4 linked regions of the Homo sapiens genome follow. The protein of the gene in region 4 interacts with the protein of the main gene of each other region in a pairwise test. Each region holds a gene or a part of one and is shown on either strand. Other genes may lie near its edges.

Region 1 (7,036 bases), on a different chromosome or scaffold from region 4:
AGGAGAATCCCTTGAACCCAGGAGGCAGAGCTTGCAGTGAGCTGAGATCTCGACACTGCACTCCAGCCTGGGCGACAGAGCAAGACTCTGTCTCAAAAAATAATAATAATAAATAAAACAAAATAAAATAAACATACTTTTTTCTAAAGATTTTTTTATTCCAAGATTATCTTTTAGCTTTGATAATGTAATACAATGCTGATTCTTTTTGCCTCTTGTCTTTGGATAGTCATTGAATGTGAAGCCTCAGCTTTGTAACTTAATATCTTACATTAATTAGCTGCAAAGGTTAGTCATTTGAACAATGCCCATTCAGATTTAACATATGTATTTATTTTAGTAAATTTAAGTTAAATACAAAAATAAGCAACTAATGAAGTTATCAGATTTCTGATTTTCAAATACATGTAGGGGATAGCTCTTTCCCCAAGAGTAGAACTCTAGTTTCAGAAGCACATTCTTTTGAGCATTCATTGACCAGAATTGCTGGCCTGTAGAACTTGGTAGTGGCTACTACTGACAGCCATGCTAAAAGGGGACCACCCAAGTTTTATGTTTCTTAAAGACAAGGGCTTGGCACAGATTGTTGCCAGTGCTTCTCTTACTTAAAGTGGAAAGCGACACAGTGGTCTGTGGAAATTGCTTCAAGGGATGGTCCTGCTGAAATAGATGAGTTGCCTGCCTCTCCAAAAGCCTCTATTATAGAAAAGTTGGTGATTGTTTTGGAGAAATTTGAACTGTAGATGAAGAAAAAAGCATAGATTGTAGTTTACTTTATAAATTTAAAGCTGCTATAAAATTCCTGACTTGTTGAAAACATGTTTCTCAAGCAGTTATGTTCAATAGCTAATTGAGAATCTCTAGAGTGATAGAGTTTGGGTTTTGTGTTACAGTTTCAGTTGTGCACAGACACTTGCTAAACCTCCAAATGTAGGAAAATACGAGGTATTTAAAGGGGATTCGTAGTACTTGGGCACAAGCATGGAGAGGAGTAACAGTGAATTTTGGATCTTCTAATAATGTGGAGAGGGACAAATAAACGTTTTTTTTATGGCTTTGATCCTTTCAAAGGGAAGCTGGGAAGGGAAGGCACAGAACAGCCAAAGCCTTGGGCCCTGTTGACACAGACCACCCTTCAGCTTCTCTATCTGGTTGTTCAAAAGCCAGCGAGTTAAAGTTAAGTTCCTTTGAAGGCAGAGAATGTGTTTTTGGGGATGATCTTCAATAACAGGAAAATTAAATCATAAGCATTCAATAGTTTAGATTATGATGATAAAGGGAGTCTTATTAATTTCTATGATTTGAAATCTCCTTCAAAAGATGAGTAGTTTATTTTCTCTTTGTTGACAGAAATCAAATTGAGTTGTTGAGTGTGGGCCTGTTGCAGCTGTCAGATATTTTGTGTAGTGTTAAGCTGATTGTAGGTGAGAATGTTTTAATCTGATCCCTTTTCCTGTTTTTGATATTTTTAAGGTGAAAGACTTGGTCGCCAGGATACATGGAAAATGGCAGGAAATAATCCAGAACTGTCGGCCTACTCAGGTGTCATTTTGTTATACAATTTCATGTATTCTTAATAGTTTTGCTGAATGGCACTCTTCATACTGTTTGAAATAAAATAGGGTATAACAGTGCACTTGCTTCTAGTTATCTTAAGATAAACTGAAAACGCCAGTATAATACATGGTTTGTAATTTTTTTAGTTTTCGTTTGCTTTATATTCATTAATTTATTTCCAGAAGTGGTTGAGCCCATTTAAAAATATTGCATTGCATCAAATGGAGGTTATTCAATTAAGAGCATTTTTAAGACAGATCTATTGAGATAGAATTCACATACCATAGATTTTACCCACTTAACGTGTACAGTGGTTTTTATTACATTGACAGAGTGAATAACATCACCATAGTCTAATTTTAGAACATTTTCATCACCCCAAAAAGAAATCCCATACCCATTAGCAGTCATTCATTCCCCTTTCCTCTACTACCTTGGTTCCCCTCCTGACTCCTCCCAAATCCTAGGCAAACACTAATCTACTTTCTGTCCCTATACATTTCCCTATTCTGGACATCGGTAAATGAGATATACTATGTAATCTTTTGTAATTGGCTGTTTTCAGTTAATATAATAATAAGTGAATCCATGTTATAGCATGTACATCCCTTCTATTGCCAAATAATTTTCCACTGTATGGATATGTCACATTTATTTATCTACTTATCAGACATTTGTATTGTTTTCACATTCTGGCTATTACAAATAATATTTCCATGAACATTTGTATGCAAGTTTTTATGTGAATATGTGTTCTCAAATGAAACATTTGAAAAGGAAGTCAAATTGCTGGGCCATATGGTAATTCTATGTTAAGTGTTTTAAGAAACTACCAGACTGTTTTCCAAAGTGACTGCATCATTTTATATTCCCACCAGAATGTCTGAGGTTTCTAATTTCTCCATATTCTCACCAACACTTGTTTTTACTAAAGCCATAGTAGGGAGTAGGGAAGTAGAATCTCATTGTGGTTTTAGTTTGCATTTCCCTAATGATTAATGGTGTTAAACATCTTCTCATATGCCTATTGGTCATTTGTATAGCTTTTTTGCAGAAATGTCTATTCAGATCCTTTGCCCATTTTTTTCATCCCATACTTCATTTCAAAAAGCCTATTTTTGAATATAGTTATTTGTCTTTTTATTATTGAGTTGTATGTTCTGGATACAAATCCCTTATTAGAGATATAATTTGTAAATATTTTCTTCCATTCTGTGTGTTGCCTTTCCTTTATTTTTATTTATTATGTATATATTTTTGACACTTTTTTTTGATGTTATATCTAAGGAGTCTTTGCCTAAGAGGGACATTTTTTTTAACACCTGCTAGTAAGTGTGCCAGCCTGCTTGTTTACAGAGTAACTGGCATAGGATTGTCTAAAATGACGCTTCTCAAATTTTAATGTACATAGGAATCAACTAGGAACTTGGTGAAATATGGATTCTGACTCATAGGTCTGGAGTGAGAACTGAGATATTCTGTACTTCTTTTTTTTTTTTTTTTTTTTTTTTTTTTTGAGACGGAGTCTTGCTCTGTCACCCAGCCTGGAGTGCAGTGGTGCAATCTCGGCTCACTGCAAGCTCTGCCTCCTGGGTTCACGCCATTCTCCTGCCTCAGCCTCCTCAGTAGCTGGGATTACAGGCGCCTGCCACCACACCTGGCTAATTTTTTTGTATTTTTTAGTAGAGACAGGTTTCACCGTGTTAGCCAGGATGGTCTGGATCTCCTGACCTCGTGATCCGCCCGCCTCGGCCTGCCAGAGTGCTGGGATTACAGGCATGAGCCACCGCGCCTGGCTGATATTCTGTAGTTCTAGCAAGTTATCAGATTGATGCCAATGCTGCTGCTTCAGGGACTAAACTTTGAGTAGCCAGGGCCTAGAAGTTGCTTATATTTTATATCAAAATAATAGGAACACTGAATGTTAAGTAGATAAAGCAATCTCTCTATTTTAAGTCTTTGAGAAATCTTATATTTATGTTTTGTTGTTTTTGTATTTGTTTCTAACCTTAATAGATTTTCTTTTAATGCTGGTCATGTACTGATGTGGTATTAAAACAGAAAATAATTTAATAGCAAAACTATACTAATCAGCTTAACATTATTTAATCTGCTTAACTAAGCCCCTCCATGTGTGCAGTGGTGAGAAAAACATCCTGCACTTATTTTTTACTGTTTTTTGTTGTTTGACTACTGAATGTGAAATTTGAATCTGATTACCATAAATTTTCAGAGAAGTCAATATAAAGATTTTATTACTTGTCTTATCAAAGCCCATTGTCTGATGATTAGTAGTTTTATAAGGATTAATTCATAATATGATTAAATTTTGCTTTACCCTCTTTTTTCTCCTTCCCTTTTTTAGGGGCAGCTTCATGACTTCTGGGTACCAGATTCTTAATAGGAGTTGCAGCAGCAAAAATATGAACCAAGAGAAATTCAATAAGAGCCTTTCATAGAGGAGTAGAAAGGATTATTACAGAATCCAATGAATGCCAAGAAAATGTACAGCAAATGTGCCACTTGAATATCTAGTATGAAGCTGGTAATGAAGAAATTGCCATTTCTGAAGCAGATATGAAATATGATCTGCTTAATTGTTAAGGCAACTGACCTTTCAAAAGTGCAGAGTCTTATTAAAAGAGGGGAGGGGTAGAAGCAGAATAATAGTCATATGTCTAACCTGCCCCAGTTAACTCCTCTTGTTAAATTATAAGCCAGTTATCTTTTTTAGATAGTATTTTTGTCACTTGGATAATCACAGGAAATATATAAGAAAAGAGCTTGGACTAACTTGAGAAGTTGGACATGGAAAGCAAGACCAAGTTCCAGTTGGGTTTAATTTTCCCTCTTGGTTATTTTCGGACACAAAGGGAATGCTTAAAACTGAGTTTAGTAATAAAAAGCATAAATCTCTTCTGTAACTTTTATAAACCACAGGGAGGTTTCAATCCATGCATTTTCCTTCATTACTCAAGATTATAAATCTGTTTTTAAAATACATCTAAACAAACAGTTGAGAAACAAAAGTTTGGCATGTTGTCAGATCCCCTTAAGAGGAAGAGGTTAAGCTGTAAAGTAGTGGCCCTGTTTTGATGCCAGAACATTCATATGCTGTTTGTTCTGGATTTCTTTTAAATGCATGTATTTTAAATACTGGTTAAATCTTAGAATCTTGGCTATATCTTAGAATTCTGGCTCTTGGTAACCATATTACAGAAGTCTATATTGTAAAAGCCTAAAGATCTGGACAAGTTTCCAACAACCTTGTTTCCATGAGTATATAATTTTGGCAGACACCTGAATTCTTTGGGACACTGTGTCTGTGTATGTGTGTGTGTGTGTGTGTGTGTGTGTGCGCTTGTATCTTGAAGTTGTTGCACTTCAAAACCACAGCTGCTGTAAATTCTTAAACACTGGAGAGCCATCCTTTGGTTTAAATGGTAGAGGGTTAGTGGAAGTGCACACGTTGTTTTTAGCCCAGGGGTAGTAACAAACTCTTACTAGCCAACTAGAAAATTATTTTGTTGACGAGATGTCCCTTTTAGGAGGGTTTGTTTCCTGAAAGAATGCCAACTTTTTTTGTTGTTCTTTCAGTATTGGCTTGAGTGACCTGTTCTCCTGAGTGCTCTAGTGTCTCCAGTTGTGGGGGGGAAAGATGATGGAGGGGAACAGAAACTGGACTTGATGTTTGCGGTTTGAGAGGCAAGAAAATAAAATAACTTTCTACCTCTAAATTGAGGCTTAGGAGTAAAAAGCATTTTGTCCTAAATTTATCATTTAAAATAGCATCAGTAACTTTTGAGCTCATGTCAATCAAGCATTGGCAGTCAGAGATTTTATAGGGAAGACTAAGTAAATCCAGTTTCCAAGAACCTAAACTGATTGAGGCTCCAAGAGTCAGACCAACAAAAGTTTTATTCTGTGTTGTTTACTGGTAAGAATATTATTATCTTGATACTACCTCTCAAGGGTATTGTTACAAAATGCCACTTATGGTTAAAGAGATAGATACAAAGAGTTCTATTTGACAGAAGCTTGAAACTCTGGCATCTATCTGCCCAACGATGGGGGCTTTCGTTCTGTAATTTAATCCTTTGTAGATACATTATTTGTGTGTAATTTTATACGTGTTCATATTTTTCTCATTTTGCATTGTGTAAAGTGTACAAAATCTCAAAGTATAAAATACTGCTTATATTGCTTGTAATTTACAGTGTGTAAATATTTTCTAATTGTGTACATTGATGGGGGGGACAAGTGGGTTATTCAGGTTTTTTTTTAATGACCCTTTTGTATTGCAGTTTCAACAGATAACTGTCCATCAAATTTAAAACCACTTTGATACATTTTTATTTAACAGTTCCAATAAGAAAAAAATCTCTATTTTTAATTATATTTCTCCTTTAGAAAAAAAATACTTCATGGTCCCTCTAAAATAAATGGCCAGACCTCAGTTTAGGCCCTTGTATTTATGACTCTGGTAGAGGTCTTCAGACTCCAGGTCATAGTCCAGTCAGTATTTGCATTTGGGTTCTCATGAAAACTTTGTGACTCTCTTTTAGCACAAGTAGCCCATGGTTTTTCTTCCAAATCAAGTATTTTACTTCTCCCTTGAGTCCCCATGCTTTGTCTCCCTCCTGCTGCTATTGCCCGGTGAATGGGATGGTAGAGAGGGAGAAATGTTCATTGCACAGAGAATGTCAGGCCACTTTGGGGACTTGGCAAACGAAGCTTGCACTGAGTGGTGGTGTGTTTGGCAATATTACTGTGCCAAAAATCACCTTGTCTAATTTTATGGATATGTATGGCAAACTTATTACCCTTCTTGCAAGCTGCACATTAAGGTACTTGTAAGTGTTTATGCTTTTGTGTGTAACTGTTTGCCTTTTCTAACTGCTTTTCTTGTTACTGAAAATATAATTCTACTAGTTTTATCACATTAAGAGGCTCTCCATGCACAAAATGCATTGATGTAGCCGTAAAGTAACAGCATTTGTACATTTTCTATCTCCTGATGGCAGTGGTGCCTTTGTCACCTTTTGGAAGGTTTGCATTTTGTTTCTGCTTTCAAGCGCAAATAGTAGCTTGCTTTCAGCTTCACAAAAATCTCCTCAAATGTAAAAGATACAAAATGGCGTGTTATCATCCAGGCTTAGTTGGAGTATTTGCATTTTTATTTTTATCAAAACAAATATAATTGGTGGGGACTGGCCAGTAATAATGTGTGGCGTCTTTAAGCCAAGAGTAATTTTTAAATTAAAAATGAAAATTTTAAGAGGTAGCCCATTAAACAAGCTACTGAGTTGGAGAATTAGGGGATGACTGTGGTGGTTTGTCGCTAAGGAGGCAACAGTAGGGTCCAGGCGGCGGGGCACGTAGAGCAGTTAGCATGATCCATGGTTATTCCTTACTCATGAACAGTGTCGGCGCACCTCATTATCTGTGCATTTGTTTTTCCTGGGCAGTCCTGTCAGCC
Region 2 (4,176 bases), on a different chromosome or scaffold from region 4:
TTTTCAGTTAGTTTGCATACTAAGGCTGCAGTTTGTTAAGGGCCCAAGTAAAGCCTCCTCAGGTCAATTTTTTTTTTCTTTTTGAGATGGAGTCTTGCTCTTGCTCAGGCTGGAGTGCAGTGGCGTGATCTCAGCTCACTGCACCTCTGCCTCCCGGGTTCAAGTGATTCTCCTGCCTCAGCCTCCTGAGTAGCTGGGACTACGACTACAGGCGCCTGCCACTATGTCCGGCTAATTTTTTGTATTTTTAGTAGAGATGGGGTTTCATCATGTTGGCCATGGCTGGTCTCGAACTCCTGACCTCAGATGATCTGCCTGCCTCAGCCTCCCAAAGAACTGGGATTATAGGCATGACCCACTGTGACTAGCCCTCAGGCCAAATTTAGCTTTTGTTTGTTTGTTTGAGACGGAGTCTCTGTCACCTAGGCTGGAGTGCAGTGGCATGATCTTGGCTCACTGCAACCTCTGCTTCCTGGGTTCAAGCAATTCTGCCGCAGCCTCCCGAGTAGCTGGGATTACAAGCATGCGCCCCCATCCCCGGCTCTTTTTGTATTTTTAGTAGAGATGGGGTTTCACCATGTTGGCCAGACTGGTCTCAAACTCCTGACCTCAGGTGATTCACCTGCCTCTGCCTCCCAAAGTGCCTGGATTACAGGCGTGAGACACCACACCCGACCCCAAATTTAATTTAACAAAGGACTAACTCAGAACTAACTTCCAACCAAAGCTGACTCACCTCAAATCTCATTGGTGCAGAATTGCTTCATACACCCATGTGTAATACAGTAACTGGCAAGAAAAAGGGACTGCTGTGATTGACTCAAACCAACTAGGAAATAGCCCTGGAGCTGAGGCTGGGGACAGGCTTTCCTGAAGCACATGCTGGAGCCACTGAAAGAAAAATGGGAGTTCTCCTTTCTACTAGAAAGGAGAGTGTGTGGATGAACTGGATGCTGGGTGGGCAGCCTCTCACTAGTACTTACGGTAGTACCAAAGACGAGTTAATCAAGGCTCTATTATGTATCCTTAGGCCCTTGATGCATGTCTCATTATGACCTTAGGACAGCCTTGTGGCAGAGGGAATGATTCCATTTAATAGACAGTAAATGGGATCTCAGTGAGGTTAAGGACATAAAGCTAATAAGTGGCAGCACGGGAATCCAGACACATGTCTGCCTGATACCAAACCCATTTTTTCCCATCTGCACGCTGCCTTCTGCTGTAAATATGTAAATGTTTCCACAAAATTCTTTTTCATACTTTGCCCTGATAGCAGCAGGGGCTGCACATCCCAACCTCTTTTCAGCTTAGCTCACCATAAAAAGCGGGATCAGAGATCTACTTCTCAGCTCTTTCTGATTTCCCCCAGGGAAGTTACAAAAGAATGACAAAAACTTGGAGAAGGCAGATATCATTAGTATTAAAGAGAACTGGAGGTTTAGGGGGAAATAAAGCTGAATAAAAAACAGCAGGGCTGGCTGAGCGTGGTGGCTCACGCCTGTCATCTCAGCGCTCTGGGAGGCTGAGGTGGGTGGATCATTTGAAATCAGAAGTTCGAGACCAGCTTGGCCAACATGGCGAAACCCCATTTCTACTAAAAATACAAAAATTAGCCGGGCGTGGTGGCGGGTGCCTGTAGTTCCAGCTACTCAGAAGGCTGAGGCAGGAGAATCGCTTGAACCCGGGTGGTGGAAGTTGCAGTGAGCCAAGATCACACTACTGCACTCCAGTCTGGGTGACGGAACAAGACTCCATCTCAAAAAAACAAAACAAAACAGGGCCTATGCATCCCTGAGATGTGAAGCAGGGGGAGATAAGGGATTTAGATGTATATCCTACTAGGTTTTTGCTGTGTTCTGCCATGCAGTTGTCTGGGCAGGATTTATTTATATTTTAATTTATTTCAGGGGCCATGCTAATCATCTTTGTATTGTTCCAATTTTAGTGTATGTGCTGCTGAAGCAAGCACTGGGTAAGGTTTAAACTGTCTAGTTCTGTGTGCTGGGGTTTGGCATTGGAGAAGGCTCTGTGATGCATAGACCTTAAATTAGAGTTAGGTATATTATTAATCCAAAGTGATCCTGAATGCTTTCTATCATTTTTTTCTTGTCCTATTGCACTGGCTAAACTGACTTTTAGTACTACACAGAATAGAAGCAACAATAACAATCATCCTTGTCTTGTTCCTAACTTTAGTGGACTATTTACAATATTTTACTGAGTTAGATGCCTTAGGTTCCACGTAGCTGCTCTTTATGAAAGACCTCACTGGGTTACCCTTCAGTCTTGGAGGAGTCTGGGTATTGGCCATGACATTTGCCATGAATGATGGAGTTCTCTCTGCCAGGTCCTCATGCCCTGGAGCTGTACGGCTGCACTTCAGCTGCTGCACATTTGACTTTTTGAGTAGCCCTTGAATCTCTGCTCTTCCTTGGCCTCTCTATAGTTTTTGGTATAATAGCCTCAGCTTAAGTTTGAGTTTTGTAGGAAAACAATGGGCCTGTGCTGACAAAGATACAAAGTCAAGGAACAGGATTTTTTATATCTCAACTAACTTGGTCCTAGCTTTGACATTTACTTGCCATATAACAATGGATGAATAACAGTCTCTTTAAGCCTTAGTTTCATCCACCGTGAAATGGGAAAAATAATATCTGTTTCATAGAGTTGTTTTAGGATCATGTAACTTATGTAAAACACTGAATAGTTTTCCAGGCATGATATAGGCACTCAATCTCATATTATGAATAAGCTTATGATGCATGGGGGATACTGATGACAGCTTTCTTCTGTCCAGGCAGGCCCAGCTACATGGTGGTATGACCAGTGCAGTCACACAGCCCCATGCTTAGCAGGGCTCTGCACTTAGTTTAATGCTCTGCTGTTGCCATCTTGAAGTTCTTAATTTTTAAACAAGCATCCCATATTTTGCACTGTTTCTTGCAAACAGTGTAGCCAGTTCTGTCTCCAGGAATGGATCCAGCACTAGTACTGGCCCTTCTCTTTGGGAAACATCCTTCCATTGATTTCTTAGGGAGTAAATCCCTTGAAGAGTAACCTCCCATAGAAAAATTAGGGTTAGCACCCTGTGTATGTTTATCTCTAACTGTTCCATTCTCAGTAACCTACACATCCTCTCTCATTAAAAAAACAAAACAAAACAAAAAACACTTTATATTTTACAGAAGCTATTAGATCCAGAGAGGTTGGTAGGGGTGCTGGTGAAATGGAATGGTGATTTGGGATTTTGGAATCAGGAAAAAGATCTAAGTTCAAAACCCTGCTAGTCCCTTTCTGGCCGAGTTACTTGGACAAGGTAATGTCTCTGTCCTACTGGTAAAGTGTATGTTGCAGGGGAATTACATTCTTTGTTGGTAAAATATATGCCTCAGGGGAATTAAACAGATAATTTATGTAAAGTGCCTTTCACAGAGAGTCTGGCACATAGTAGGTGGTCGGTCACTATTAATTCTTCCAGCTCTTGCCAGAAATAACTAAAATCAGGGCACTAGGACTTCCAAGCCGTGCTGCTACTAATAAAAGAAATAATATGATTTATTTTTTCACAACTGTTTGGGGAAAGGCCTGTGCTTCATAAATATGCGTTGGAAAGTACTTAGCAAATGAGTAGAAATAATAAAAATATGTCCAAGTAAACAGCTCCTATAAATATGTCACTTGGTAGACAAATTAGTGTTTTATCACTACTAAATACTATTGCTCGCTGAAAAGGATTTCGGATTGCTTGCACAATGGGTACATTATTGAATGCCTCTGTGGAAGGGCATGATAAAGATGAAAAATAGTGACGGTGGTAATGCCTAAGGTGGAGAAAGGAGGAGCGTGGATAAACGCAGCTCGGAGGCCTCTGTGCTGCAGTGATATGCACATTATTTAGCAGCATTCCAATGATTTGCTTGTAATATGGACCAGAGGGCCCAGAAAAAAATGATTTCCACAGGATGTCATGAATCCAAACTTCAATTATTGGATCCAATCAGTGGATTAAGTGCACCCCCTTTCAGAACTGAACCTTCAGGTTGTAAACTAAGTTTATGAAAGGACATCCCCAGGTCTCACCCCACCCTTGTTCTGGACCTATTAACTTTTTTTCTGTTTGTTTGTTTTTTGTTTTGAGATGGAGCCTTGCTCTGTCACCCAGGCTGGAGTGCAGTG
Region 3 (7,036 bases), on a different chromosome or scaffold from region 4:
CTTTTGTATTGATAGCCTTTTCTTTTGGAGATGGGGGTCTCACTCTGTCACTCAGGCTGGAGTGCAGTGGCACAATCACAGCTCACTGCAGCCTCAAGCTCCTGGGCTCATGCCATCCTCCTGCCTCAGCCCCTGAGTAGCTGGGACAACAGGTGCATGCCACCATGCCTTGCCGAGTTTTTGTATAGATGGGGTTTCACCATGTTGCCCAGGCTGGTCTTGAACTCTGGACTGGTCTGGACTTGAGATTCAGACCAGATCTGTAAGCCACTGCACCCGGCCTTGATAGCCATTTGTTTTCATACACAGCAGCAATTAGTAGCCATTTAAGATATCTGTGCGCCAGCCTACAAGAAATACAAATGTACAGGGTAAAATCCTAGCTGGATCAAATATGAGCTTTGTAAATTTTTAAAAACTTTTTTATTGAGTTGTGGTTTATGCCTGTAATCCCAGCACTTTGAGAGGCTGAGGCAGGAGGATCCCTTGAGGCCAGGAGTTTGGCACCAGCCTGAGCAACACAGTGGGACCCTGTCTACACACACACCCCACCCCCACACACCCCAATTCACATACCACAAACAAAAAAACTCCTAGAAATCACCTTGGCTCAGGCAGCTTCTTCAGATTCCTGAGACCCCATTTCCTGGATCATCACAACCATCTCACAGGATGCAATGAAAAGAGCTGTTAAGCACTTTGTAGACTTGGCTACAAATCTGTGCAGATTTGGTTGCAAAATGTTACTACCCTGACAAGAAGCCATGAACGCAGCCGGCACTGACTCAATATACTTCTGCCAAGGTCCCACCATCAAAACTGTCTTATTGAAGTTAACTTAAGGAAATTGTTATTTCTAAACTTCATATGGTAAATGAAAAATACTGAACAAGGCAAATAAAACAAGATAAATGAATTCCAGAAATTAACATTCAGTCAGTCCTAGGTATTGTTACTTTTTAGAGCATTAAGATACATTGCTATATTGTTGATTTAGCCAAGCTAAGATCCCTATAGTCAATCAAAATAGTTAAATAATTTTTTGTTTTTCCCAAAAATCATTATTTTTTGTTTTAGGATGTTGGCAAACACTGTAATGTGTTTTTTTTTTTTTTTGAGACAGAGTTTCGCTCTTGTCGCCCAGGCTGGAGTGCAATGACACAGTCTCGGCTTACCACAACCCCCGCCTCCCAGGTTCAAGCGATTCTCCTACCTCAGCCTCCCAAGTAGCTGGGATTACAGGCATGCGCCACTAGGCCTAGCTAATTTTTTGTATTTTTAGTAGAGATGGGGTTTCTCCATGTTGGTCAGACTGGTCTTGAACTCCAGCCTCAGGTGACCCACCCACCTTGGCCTCCCAAAGTGCTGGGATTTATAAGCATGAGCCACCATGCCCAGCCTGTAATGTAATTTATAAATACAGTAATGTAATTTATAAATAAAATGTCAACACAGAATACTAATTTCTTGTAGAAAATGTAGAAAATAGGCTGGGTGTGGTGGCTCACGCCTGTAATCCCAGCACTTTCGGAGGCCAAGGCAGGCGGATCACTTGAGGTCAGGAGTTCAAGATCAGCCTGGCTAACATGGTAAAACCCCGTCTCTACTAAAAATACAAAAATTAGCTGGGCGTGGTGGCACATGCCTGTAATCCGAGTTACTCGGGAGGCTGAGGCAGGAGAATTGCTTGAACCGGGAGGCGGAGGTTGCAGTGAACCGAGATCACACCACTGCACTCCAACCTGGGTGACAGAGCAAGACTCCATCTCAAAAGAAGAAAAAGAAAATGTAGAAAATATTTGATTTAAGTGACCTCCTAAAATTTAGAAATACCTAGGAAACATACAACTTCTCAAGATGCAGCAAAATTTACAAAATCATTTTTCAAAGTATCTCGATATAAACAACTCTCAGTTCCAATTTCAACTGGCTTGTCTTTAAAATATGATACTTGATGGCAAAGAATGGGATCTTTTAAGAGTTCTATAGTTTGGATCTATTTGAGAGTGCTGGATTGAACAAATGCAGCCCACAGAATTTAAAATGCAGACACTTGAATGTATAGGATCACCCAAAACAGAGAATTCTGAAGTCTTACGCCAGGGGTTGTTGAAAGGGAAATTCTCTTTTATAGGATTTTTTTCTTTATTCTCGTTTGAAGCAGTGTCTTTGTCTTCCAATGCCCGAGCAAGCATGTAGCTAACTTTTCTTTGATGAGCCAAAGCTTCTTCTTTATCATTAAGCTGCATGCACAGAAATTAAACATGTACAAGTTAGTCAATAAATCACAGAATATATTCAGAGAAAGGAGTATTGTACTATTTTATCAAGTTATTCAACCCTAATATTCATACTGATCTGTCCATCAGTATGAATAAATTAGGTATCACCTGATCCCCAAACATTATACTACATGTTATTCATGAATCTTTTTTTTTTTTTTTTTGAGACGGAGTCTGGCTCTGTCACCCAGGCTGGAGTGCAGTGGCACTATCTCCACTCACTGCAAGCTCTGCCTCCCAGGTTCACACTATTCTCCTGCCTCAGCCTCCCAAGTAGCTGGGACCACAGGTGCCCGCCACCACACCCAGCTAATTTTTTGCATTTTTTAGTAGAGACGGGGTTTCACTGTGTTTGCCAGGATGGTCTGAATCTCCTGACCTTGTGATCAGCCCACCTTGGCCTCCCAAAGTGCTGGGATTACAGGCGTGAGCCACCGTGCCCGGCCAATTCTTTTTTTTTTTAAGACAGGGTCTGGCTCTGTTGCCCAGGCTGGAATGCAGTGATGCCATCTTGGCTCACTGCAGCCTCTGCCTCCCAGGCTCAAGTGATTCTTGGGCCTCACCCTCCCGAGTAGAGTAGCTGGGACTATAGGCGTGCACCACCACACCTTGCTAATTTTTGTAGGCTGGTCTCGAACTCCTGGCCTCAAGTGATCCACTCGCCTCGGCCTCCCAAAGTGCTGGAATTACAGATGTGTGCCACCATGCCAGGCTGACAATTTTTTTTTTTTTTTGAGACAGAGTCTCGCTCTGTCACCCAGGTTGGAGTGCAGTTGCATGATCTTGGCTCACTGCAAGCTCCGCTCTCCTGGGTTCACACCATTCTCCTGTCTCAGCCTCCCATGTAGCTAGGGACTACAGGTGCCAGCCACCACACCTGGCTAATTTTTTGTATTTTTAGTAGAGACAGTTTCACCGTGTTAGTCAGGATGGTCTCGATCTCCTGACCTCATGATCCACCCGCCTCGGCTTCCCAAAGTGCTGGGATTACAGGCATGAGCCACTGTGCCCAGCCCCGACGATTATTTTTTAAAAATAATTTTTTAAAAAAAAAAACAGAAGACAGCATTGAAAATTTTGCAAGTCATCTGGAAATGAAGGGAAAATATAGATCTATATGAAGTGTGTATATATAGGTATATAATATCAACATATAAAAAATATATCAACGTGCATATTTATAAAATAATGTTGAAGTTATTTGTATATAAAATTGCTTTCATATATTTGTATGCAAATATATAACAGTCTAGAGATAAGTATGTTCATATAACCTGAGTCTCAGTGTCTTAGTTTAGTCATTCCATGTGGAATGTGGGTAGCAGGACTGTAAAGGATATAATGTGTGAGGAAATGCCTTGAACACTTTAAAAATGCCTCAATAAACAGGCAGACTTGTCACAAACTGTATATATATAAATGTAGATGGCAAAGCTGGCTGGAGTTAACTACAGGAGCCCCCTGTTTTCCAAGATGGAGCCTTTAAACCTGCACAGAAAGAATATGAATGACGAGAAAAGATGAGCTGAGGGAGATAAAGATCATGAAGGTAGAGTCTGGTACTCCAACTGGGAAAAGGACATAGAAGGCAAGTGCAAGTCTAGAGAGATAAAGAGTTGAATTAACAGGAAGCAAATAGATTAGCTTAACCTAGGGGTGTCCAATCTTTTGGCTTCCCTGGGCCACACTGGAAGAAGAAGAATTGTCTTGGGCCACACATAAAATACACTAACACTGGCTGGGCATGGTGGGTCACGCCTGTAATCCCAGCACTTTGGGATGCCGAGGTGGGCAGATCACTTGAGGTCAGGAGTTTGAGACCAGCCTGGCCAACATGGTGAAATCCTGTCTCTACTAAAAACGCACACACAAAATTAGCCAGGCGTGGTGGTGGGCGCCTGCAGTCCCAGCTACTCTAGAGGCTGAGGCAGGAGAATTGCTTGAACCCGGGAGGTGGAGGTTGCAGTGAGCCGAGATCGCGCCGCTGCACTCCAGCCTGGGTGACAGAGACTCTGTCTCAAAAACCAAACAAACAAAAAAACCAAAAAACAAACAAAACAAAAAAATACACTAACACTAATGATAGCTGATGAACTAAAAAAATATATATATATATCAAAAAGATCTCATAATGTTTTAAGAAAGTTTACGAATTTGTGTTGGGCCACATTCAAAGCTGTTCTGGGCTGCATGCTCCCCACGGACCGTGGGTTGGACAAGCTTGGCTTAACCATAACCTGCAAAAAAAAGCAAAGACACTAACCAAATCTATGAGCATCTTAAGGACCTCTTGAGGACTGTCCTGGTCTTCCATCCTCTTAGAACTGTTTTCTGAAGGGAGCATACCCAACAGTCTCTGCCCGAAGGTCTTCTTACTCCTTGGTGATGGAAATCCTAAAATTGAACATGAGAATCCAGCTGAGACATTAAAATATCCTCACTGATATACTTCCAGCAAAAGAGGTAACTTGATCTCTAGGACAAGTGAGTCCAGGAGCACACAGTGGAATGTAGTGAGCAGAGCACAGCCTTCAGAGCCAGGAGCAATGCAGGTGAGAGGCAGCAAGAGTGCCGCCCTGCCATGCGGCACAGCCACCCCTCTGTGCCAGCTGACACACAGGCCACACAAGAACACAGTCCATGTCACTGGATCATCACAGTCTTCAAGAGCAGCCAGAAATGCAGATCTGTCATGACATCTTCCAATTCTAAATGTCAGCCACTAGTCTTATTGTTTGACTACACTAAGCCAACCTAACAAAACATGTCTGCAGGCCACAGGGGGCCTCTGAGCCATGCAAACTCTGCTTCCGAACAGCAAAGACCTGGACTTGAATCCTCATTCAGCCACTTACTAACTGTATGACCTCGGGTGACTTTTCTCAGCTTGATTTCCTCATCTCTAAAATGAGAATAGCATTACCTTCTTCTCAGGGAACTGTGCCATTAAATAATAAATCACACGGGCTGGAGAAGGGGAAGTGAGGAGTTACTGTTTCATGGGACAGGGTCTCTGTAAAGAAAGATGAAAATGTTCTGGAGCTGGATGGTGATGAAGGTTACATTACAATGTGAATATACTTAATACCACTTAAAAACAGTTCAAATGGTAAACTATATATATATATATATATATATATATATATATATATATATATATAATTTTTTTTTTTTTTTAGATGGAGTCTTGTTCTGTCACCCAGGCTGGAGTGCAGTGGCGCAATCTCGGCTCACTGCAAGCTCCGCCTCCCGGGTTCGCGCCATTCTCCTGCCTCAGCCTCCCGAGTAGCTGGGACTACAGGCGCCCGCCACCACGTCCGGCTAATTTTTTTGTATTTTTAGTAGAGATGGGGTTTCACTGTGTTAGCCAGGATGGTCTCGATCTCCTGACCTCATGATTCGCCCCCTCTTGGCCTCCCAAAATGCTGGGATTACAGGCGTGAGCCACCGCGCCCGGCCAACTTTAGATATATTTTACCACCATCACGACAACAACAAAAAATACCACAATTGTCAAAGGCCCTGCTCAGGTATTAGCATAATATTTAATATTTCACGTGCTGACATCATTGATGTCCTTCTTCATCCATTGAAGGAAAGTAATTTGCAGAAGTTATAAAATCTCAGATTGTACAAGGAAAATTTCAAGAATGTTTTTGGAATATTCTCCAAAAGTGGTTTAGTGGGAAACTGAGAGCAGATGAGGGGAGATCCCCTTCCCACCAATCCTGACAGACCACAGTGACGAGGGCGGCCCTGACCCCTTCCACGAGGAGCTGTGGCAAACAGAAGTCAGAGAAACTGACACTTTGATGAGTAGATGAATCTGTGTCCCTATTTTCAGTCTAAAAAAAGAAATAGCTTGGTGTGATGGCTCAAGCTGGTAGTCTGGAGGATTGCTTAAGCCCAGGAGTTTAAGATAAAAAAAAAAAAAAAAAAACCCAAAAGCAAAAATACAAAGAAAGAAAGAAGTATGCCTATAAACTACTTCCGGAAACTTGTCTAAACTGCCATATCAAAAAGAAAGTTGATATTAAGTGTTACTAAACATAAAATAATCTGTATCACCCTGTACCTCTTAAGATTACTGAAATATACTAATAAAATGAATTAAAGTCTTGTCACTGAGAAACTGAGAAAGAACTACTCAAACTTGTATAGATTTATAAAAGCTGTGCGAGATTAATCAATTTTTTTTTTTTTTTTTGAGATGGAGTCTCGCTTTTGTCGCCCAGGCTGGAGTGCAACAGCGCAATCTTGGCTCACCACAACCTCTGCCTCCCGGGTTCAAACATTTCTCCTGCCTCAGCCTCCCGAGTAGCTGGGATTACAGGCTTGTGCCACCACACCCAGCCAATTTTGTATTTTTAGTAGAGACAGGGTTTCTCCATGTTGGTCAGGCTGGTCTCAAATTCCCGACCTCAAGTGATCCACCCACCTCAGCCTCCCAAAGTCCTGAGATTACAGGCGTGCCACTGCACCCGGCCATCAGTTTTTGGTGGTTTTTTTTTTTTGAGACAGGGTCTTGCTCCATCACCCAGGCTGGACTGCAGTGGTGGGATCATGACTCACTGCAGCCTCAGCCTCCCAGGCTCAAGCGATCCTCCCACTTCAGCCTCCCTAGTAGCTGAGACCACAGGTATCTACCACCACACTTGGCTATTTTTTTTTTTTTAATAGAGACAGGGTCTCCCTATGTTGCCCAGCCTGGTCTCAAACTCCTGAGCTCAAGCAATCCTCCTGCCTCAGCCTCC
Region 4 (7,036 bases):
ACCCCAGCCCTCACTGCGAGGAGGGAGCAACAGAGGATGAAGGGGAGGAGGGAGCAACAGAGGATGAAAGGGGGAGGGAGCAACAGGATGAAAGGGGGAGGGAGCAACGGAGGATGCAAGGGGAAATGACCAGCCCCTGAGGCCCTAAAAACACAACAACTTTGTCATGTCAAAATGGTTACTTAGAATAACATCAGCCTCAAGTTCCCATTCAAAATCCACAGAGAATCCACTCAAACATCATTATGAAAGGAGAGTGAAGAAAGTACCTATTTGTGGAACAGATCTTACCCTACTTGCTTTCTTTCAGCATGGCAGTGGAATTAAAGAGATATCTGCATATTCCTTAAGCTGTGTTTTGCTTTGTTTAAGGCAATTTGGGATAATGGGCTAATTCCTCCAAGAGACTGGCAGATGACACTAAGGAACCAGAGATTTGCCACAAAGCAAAGGAAACCGGAGCTCAGGGCCCCTCACTTGCAGAGCCCCTTCATGGTCTTGCACCTAATTTTGTCTGTAATTTTGTGTTCTTTTTCTAAAGAACCCTGAATTATAGAAGCTCCAGGCCCCACCATCTGCCCCTTCGCAGTTGGTTTTTATTTTCATTGGCTCCATATTGGGGGTCCCTTTTGTCTGGGGGGAAATGTGGGTCTTTCCATGGGTATGAGGAAGAAATGTCCACTTGCCTTGAGCTTCTCGGTGGCATCTTCTATCTGGGTTATGTTGTCAATGTGCTGCTGCTTCTTGATTGCCAGCTGCTTTAAACATTCTTGGCTGAGTTTCTGTACAGGAGGGAGTTAGGAAAAAAGTCGTAATACTGTCACTTTCCAAATAACAGGCCCCCCACAGGGGTCACCTCCTCTTACCCTTGTATTCTTTTCCAATGGAGGCATCTGAAGGTGAGGTAACTTGCCCAAAGTCATATGGCAAGTTGGTGGATGAGCTGGGACTAGGACATCTCTGATCCTCGGAGGTCCACATCAGGTATGCCTCTAATCTTGATTTGCACCCCTTCCTCACACTTTACTTTATCTAGGACAAGTCTTGCCTGTGACTTGCTTTTCCAGCCTTTCAAGTGGGACTTTAAGGCAAACAGCTTGGGGTCTGGGAAAGAACATCTACTTATGGAGTATTAACTGAGCACCTATTATGTGCTGGGCCCTGTTCCAGGTGCTGCCCTCATGAAACATACATTCCAGGGAGTCTGTGACCCTCTGGCCCTGGACTACGTGAGAGGTCAGTGGGGTTCATGCTTCCTGCTCTTCCCACCTTCCATATCTCTGCTTTTTGAAATTGCTTTTTTCCCCAAAGTCTGCTCTGCACTCTCCTTCCCCAAGGGTGTGATCTCGTCTCCATCTTAGCCTTTCTTACAGCTGGCCTTACACTCAGCTGCTGGGCCCAGATCTGGCTGCCCCATTGACTAGGAGCTTCTTGAGGGCAGGCTCGCTTCGTTCTCACTCCCCACAGGGAGCAGGGTGTGACCAGAAGTGTTTGCTGAATTGAACAGAATTATCAGGGGCTGGTCAGGCATGGTGGCTCATGTCTGTAATCCCAACACTTTGGGAGGCTGAGGTAGGAGGATCACTTGAGCCCAAGGAGTTCGAGACCAGCCTGGGCAACATAGTGAGACTCTGCCTCTACCACAAAAAATAAAATAAAATAAAATAAAATAAAATAAAATAAAATAAAATAAAATTAGCTGGGCATGGTGGCATGCACCTGTAGTCCTAACTACTTGGGAGGCTGAGGTCAGGGGCGGGTCACCTAAGCCCAGGAGGTTGCAGTGAGCCATGATCATGCCACTATGCCACTGCACTCCAGCCTGGGCAACAGAGTGAGACCCTGTCCCCCCCCCCAAAAAAAAACAATTATCAGGTGCTGCTAGCTTCTTTCCCAACCAGCCAGAGAACTCTTCCAGGTCAGGGAAGGATCTGATCTGTTCTTTGACTCATGGCCCAAAATATATGCTGAATAGATGTTTGGTGAATGATGGATGGATGAATGAATAATGGGTGAATGGATAGGAAAGTGGGTATGTGGATGCAAAATGAATATTCATAGTGTCAACCTTACGTAATGAAATTCAAGAGCTGAGCATGGTGGCTTGCACCTGTAATCCCAGCTACTCAGGAGGCTGAGGTGGGAGGATCACTTAAGGCCAGGAGTTTGAGACCAGCCTGAGCAACATAGCTAGACCCCATTTTTACCAAAAAACAACAAACAAAACAAAACAAAAAACCTGGCTGGGCATGGTGGAGAATGCCTCAAGTTCCAGCTGCTTGGGAGGATGACATTCACAGGCTATAGAAATGATTAGCAAAGAAATAAATTGATGGTGGCTAGCTTTGTTTAATGAACTATTCAGGCAAAATTGTTAAGAATGAAAAAATTAAATAAATGTAAATGAGATCAAAGTTTATAAATGAACATTTCATAGTTTTAAAAGTTGTTTTCAGGCTGGACACGGTGGCTAACGCCTGTAATCCCAGCACTTTGGGAGGCCAAGGCAGGCAGATAACCTGAGGTCAGGGGTTCGAGACAGCCTGACCAACGTGGAGAAACCCCGTCTCTACTACAAATACAAAATTAGCCAGGCATGGTGGCGCATGCCTGTAATCCCAGCTACTCGGGAGGCTGAGGCAGGAGAATCACTTGAACCCAGGAGGCAGAGGTTGCAGTGAGCCAAGATCACACCATTGCACTCCAACCAGGGCAACAAGAGTGAAACTCCGTCTCAAAAACAAACAAACAAAAATTGTTTTCAGTAACTTAATATCATGTTATGTTAAATGAAGTAATAGGTCATTATAAAACGTCTGAATCATTTATATGGTATAGAAAAGCTAAATATATTTCGATCTGTTAACAAAAAAAAATTGAGGAGCCATCTTTCTAGAAATTATGAAATTATTTTCATCTACAAATGCTGGTAGAAAACAGCTAAAAATTACTTACTTCCTAGGTTTTTCACTGGAAATTTGGGTTACTAAGAGTGAAAATTGTAGTTAACATATGTGATTAAAACTACTTGATATAAAAGAAACAGTTCTATTTACAGAGTGTATAAAGTCAGATGTGTTTTTGGTAAAGACTGTTGAAAGAGAGTAATTTTTCTTTTGCATGAGAGAGAACTTTGTGTAGTCAAAATGATAATGGGAAAAGGGAAGTAAATTTTTGTCCTAAGGTAGAATGCCAAAATAAAAAGGAAGTATAGGACAAAACTGAAGATTTAAGCAAATTCTAGAAGGTCTGTGGAAGATTAATCTCACAAAAGACATTTTGTATGTGATCAAATTGGTTAAAATGAGAAGGAAATGGCAGGGTGTGGTGGCTCCTGCCTGTAATCCCAGAACTTTGGGAGGCCGAGGCAGGCAGATCACGAAGTCAGGAGTTTGAGACCAGCCTGACCAACATGGAGAAACCCCGTCTCTACTAAAAATACAAAAATTAGCCAGGTGTGGTGGTGCACGCCTGTAATCACAGCTACTCAGGAGGCTGAGGCAGGAGATCACTTGAATCTGGGAGGTGGAGGTTGCAGTGAGCAGAGATTGCGCCATTGCACTCCAGCCTGAGTGACAGAGCAAGACTCAATCTCAAAAAAAAAAAAAAAAAAAAAATCAGAAGGAAATGGCCAGGCGCGGTGGTTCATGGCTGTAATCCCACCACTTTAGGAGGCCGAGACAGGTGGATCACCTGAGGTCAGGAATTTGAGACCAGCCTGGCTAACATGGTGAAACCCCGTCTCTACTAAAAATATAAAAATTAACTGGGCATGGTGTTGTGCACCTGTAGTCCTAGCTACTCGGGAGGCTAAGGCAGGAAAATTGCTTGTACCTGGGAGGTGGAGGTTGCAGTGAGGCAGTTCATGCCACTGCACTCCAGCCTGGGCAACAAGAGCGAAACTCCATCTCAAAAAAAAAAAAAAAAAAAAAAAAGAAGGAATTTTTTATAAGTTTTTCTAAAACTTAAGTATTAATATCAAAAGCACACTCATGTAAGGCCAGAGTCTGGGCTCCTGTGTTGGAACAACCAGGTTTTATCAGAGCATTGATCTGCTCTTTAATAGAAAATGGTGAGAGATTATCGATTATCTTATCTTGTGTAGTCAAAGCTGACTGAAATTGGATGATAGATAATATACTAACACCTAAGTAATTTTTTTCTTTTTTTGAGACAGGGTCTCACTTTGTCACCCAAGATGAAGTTCAGTGGTGCAATCTTGGCTCACTGCAGCCTTGACCTCCCAGGCTCAAGCAATCCTCCTGCCTCAGCCCCCCAAGTAGCTGGGACTATAGGCACACACCACCACACGCAGCTAATTTTTGTATCTTTTGTAGAGACAGGGTTTCACCATGTTGCTCAGGCTGGTTTTGAACTCCTGAGCTCAAGTGATCTGCCTGCCTTGGCCTCCCAAAGGGCTAGGATTACAGGCATGAGCCACTGTGCCTGGCCTAAAAGTAAAACTTGTTTTTCTCCTTTGAATAAAAATGTAATGTAGAATTAATAAGAGACGGTAAAAGATGTATTTACTTTTGCATAAATGGCAAAGAAAAGGTAACTGGGGAGAGTTTGTCCCATGCTGTCTTTATTAGGTCTCTTGATTGAGAACTGAATCTCCTCTATCAGAGTGGTTTTTGCTTTTTGAAATCTTTGAATAATCATTTTGGCTAAAGTAATTACCATTATTTTGTAGTGACCTGTGATTCTATTTTGATCATGTGTTTTAAACCTTTCTTATTTCTATATCAAGTGTTTTAAACCTTTAATATTTGAGATACTTCCCAAAATTAAATTAAGTCTTTTTGACCCAAGCTAACTTGGGCATAACCAGGACCCCTGGAAGTCCAAAAGAGACACATTAGGCTTATTTGGGATGTCAAAGTCATATGGGAAATATTGTCAAATAAGAAATGATGTTTAACTTTCTTTGAGTTATATTTATAAAAGCGTATTATTAATGTGTTCCAAAATTGTATGAGATTCCTAAAAGTCTGATATGTCTTGGTATATGTTATCAGTATATCATTATCATAATTATTATGATAAACTGGTGTGTGCCACACAAATAACCACATATCCTAGTCAATTTCATCTTTGACCGTGGCTATTCTAAGCCTTTTATCATCCACAGACAATTTGTTTTTTTTTTGAGACAGAGTCTCATTCTGTCGCCCAGGCTGGAGTGCAGTGGCGTAATCTCGGCTCACTGCAAGCTCCACCTCCCGGGTTCATGCCATTCTCCTGCCTCAGCCTCCCAAGTAGCTGGGACTACAGGTGCCCGCCACCACGCCTGGCTAATTTTTTTGTATTTTTAGTAGAGACAGGGTTTCACCATGGTCTCGATCTCCTGACCTCGTGATCGGCCCGCCTCAGCCTCCCAAAGTGCTGGGATTACAGGCGTGAGCCACCGCACCCAGCCGACAATTTTTATTTTACTTTGATTCTTTTAAAAAAAGTCGTTTATAATCAGCTACAAAATTTGCTTCATCTTTAAGGAAATTTTTGGAAAAAAACCCTGACAAGTACTCTTGAATACAGGTTTCTGGTAACTTCAGAGATCTTACCATTGGATTAAGCAAAAGCTTCCAGAACTCTAATAAAAACCTGAGGCATTCATGAAGACTGCTAACCCAACATCAAGCAGAGCAAGAATTATTTACATGGGACTAAACTGATAGAGGATAAAAGTGATTTTTATGATTTTTAAAATTTGAAACATTGCTGATTCTTTTTATATTGTTTTTCAGTCAAGAAAATTTTTTCTTTTGTCACAGCAACTGGATAAAAGATACTTTTGTGAGCAAAATTGAAACATTTGTCTTTCTCTCTACCTGATTTCACCAAAATTTGCAAACTATTTGTGTTTACTTTTTTTATTTTCATTTTTAAATTAATTTTTTTTTTTTAGACAGAGTCTTGCTCTGTCACCCAGGCTGGAGTGCAGTGGCATGATCTCGGCTCACTGCAACCTCTGCCTCCTAGGTTCAAGCGATTTTCCTGCCTCAGCCTCCTGAGTAGCTGGGACTACAGGTACATGCCACCACGCTTGGCTAATTTTTCTTTCTGAGGTGGAGTCTTTCTCTGTTGCCCAGGCTGGAGTGCAGTGGCACAATCTTGGCTCACTGCAACCTCTGCCTCGTGGGGTTCAAGCAGTTCTCCTGCCTCAGCCTCCCGAGTAGCTGGGATTACAGGTGCCCACCACCATGCCCAGCTAATTTTTGCATTCTTAGTAGAGATAGGTTTCACCATGTTGGTCATACTGGTCTCGAACTTCTGACCTCGTGATCCACCCACTTTGGCCTCCCAAAGTGCTAGGATTACAGGCGTGAGCCACTGAGCCCAGCACAATTTTTGTATTTTTAGTAAAGATGGGGTTTCACCATGTTGGCCAGGCTGATCTCCAACTCCTGACCTCAACTGATCCGCCCACCACAGCCTCCCAAAGTGCTGGGTTTACAGGCGTGAGCCACCGCACCTGGCTATTTGTGAGTATTCTTATTTTATGACAATATAGTTATTTGCATAAGTTCAATAAGAGTATGTTTTCTTTCATAACAGACCACATTGGAGACACTGGTAATTTTACCAAGGCTTTGACTGAAATGATATATCTTCATATATGATCAGACTGCTTTCAGGAACTGAAGTCAAGTTTACAGAGCCCATAAGAAGACCCTTGGGGGCCAGGCTTGGTGGCTCAGGTCTGTAATCCCAGCACTTTGGGAGGCTGAGGTAGGTGGATCACTTGAGTCCAGGAGTTTGAAACCAGCCTGGGCAACATAGTGAGACCCCGCCTCTATTAAAAAATGTTAACAAGAATAAAATAAAATACAATAAAAGGGGGCCCAGCACTTTGGGACACTGAGGTGGGCAGTTCACTTGAGGTCGGAGTTTTCAAGACCACCCTGGCCAACATGGTGAAGCCACATCTCTACCAACAAATACAAAAATTAGCCAGGAGTGGTGGTGCACACCTGTAGTTCCAGCTACTCAGGAAGCTGAAGTGGGAGAATCACTTGAACCTGGGAGGTGGAGG

What was found.
Region 1: the proteins of TRIM14 (region 4) and SLF2 interact in binary tests that used the Homo sapiens proteins (3 or more experiments, as listed by UniProt).
Region 2: the proteins of TRIM14 (region 4) and RAD51D interact in binary tests that used the Homo sapiens proteins (3 or more experiments, as listed by UniProt).
Region 3: the proteins of TRIM14 (region 4) and CCDC125 interact in binary tests that used the Homo sapiens proteins (3 or more experiments, as listed by UniProt).

Annotation. Positions count from the first base shown.
Region 1 is NC_000010.11:100,957,955-100,964,990, forward strand, and holds part of SLF2 (SMC5-SMC6 complex localization factor protein 2), read left to right. Parts: intron 1-1,473; coding exon 1,474-1,542; coding exon of another isoform or gene 1,543-1,617; exon of another isoform or gene 1,618-1,634; intron 1,635-3,922; coding exon 3,923-3,958; 3' UTR 3,959-7,036. UniProt on the Homo sapiens protein: Plays a role in the DNA damage response (DDR) pathway by regulating postreplication repair of UV-damaged DNA and genomic stability maintenance.
Region 2 is NC_000017.11:35,091,702-35,095,877, reverse strand, and holds the end of RAD51D (DNA repair protein RAD51 homolog 4), read left to right. Parts: 3' UTR 1-3,657; downstream 3,658-4,176. UniProt on the Homo sapiens protein: Involved in the homologous recombination repair (HRR) pathway of double-stranded DNA breaks arising during DNA replication or induced by DNA-damaging agents. Bind to single-stranded DNA (ssDNA) and has DNA-dependent ATPase activity.
Region 3 is NC_000005.10:69,280,792-69,287,827, forward strand, and holds part of CCDC125 (coiled-coil domain-containing protein 125), read right to left. Parts: intron 4,677-7,036; coding exon 4,546-4,676; intron 2,244-4,545; coding exon 1,938-2,243; 3' UTR 348-1,937; coding exon of another isoform or gene 316-347; 3' UTR 1-315. UniProt on the Homo sapiens protein: May be involved in the regulation of cell migration.
Region 4 is NC_000009.12:98,109,203-98,116,238, forward strand, and holds part of TRIM14 (tripartite motif-containing protein 14), read right to left. Parts: intron 2,496-7,036; exon of another isoform or gene 924-2,495; coding exon of another isoform or gene 867-923; intron 783-866; coding exon 687-782; intron 1-686.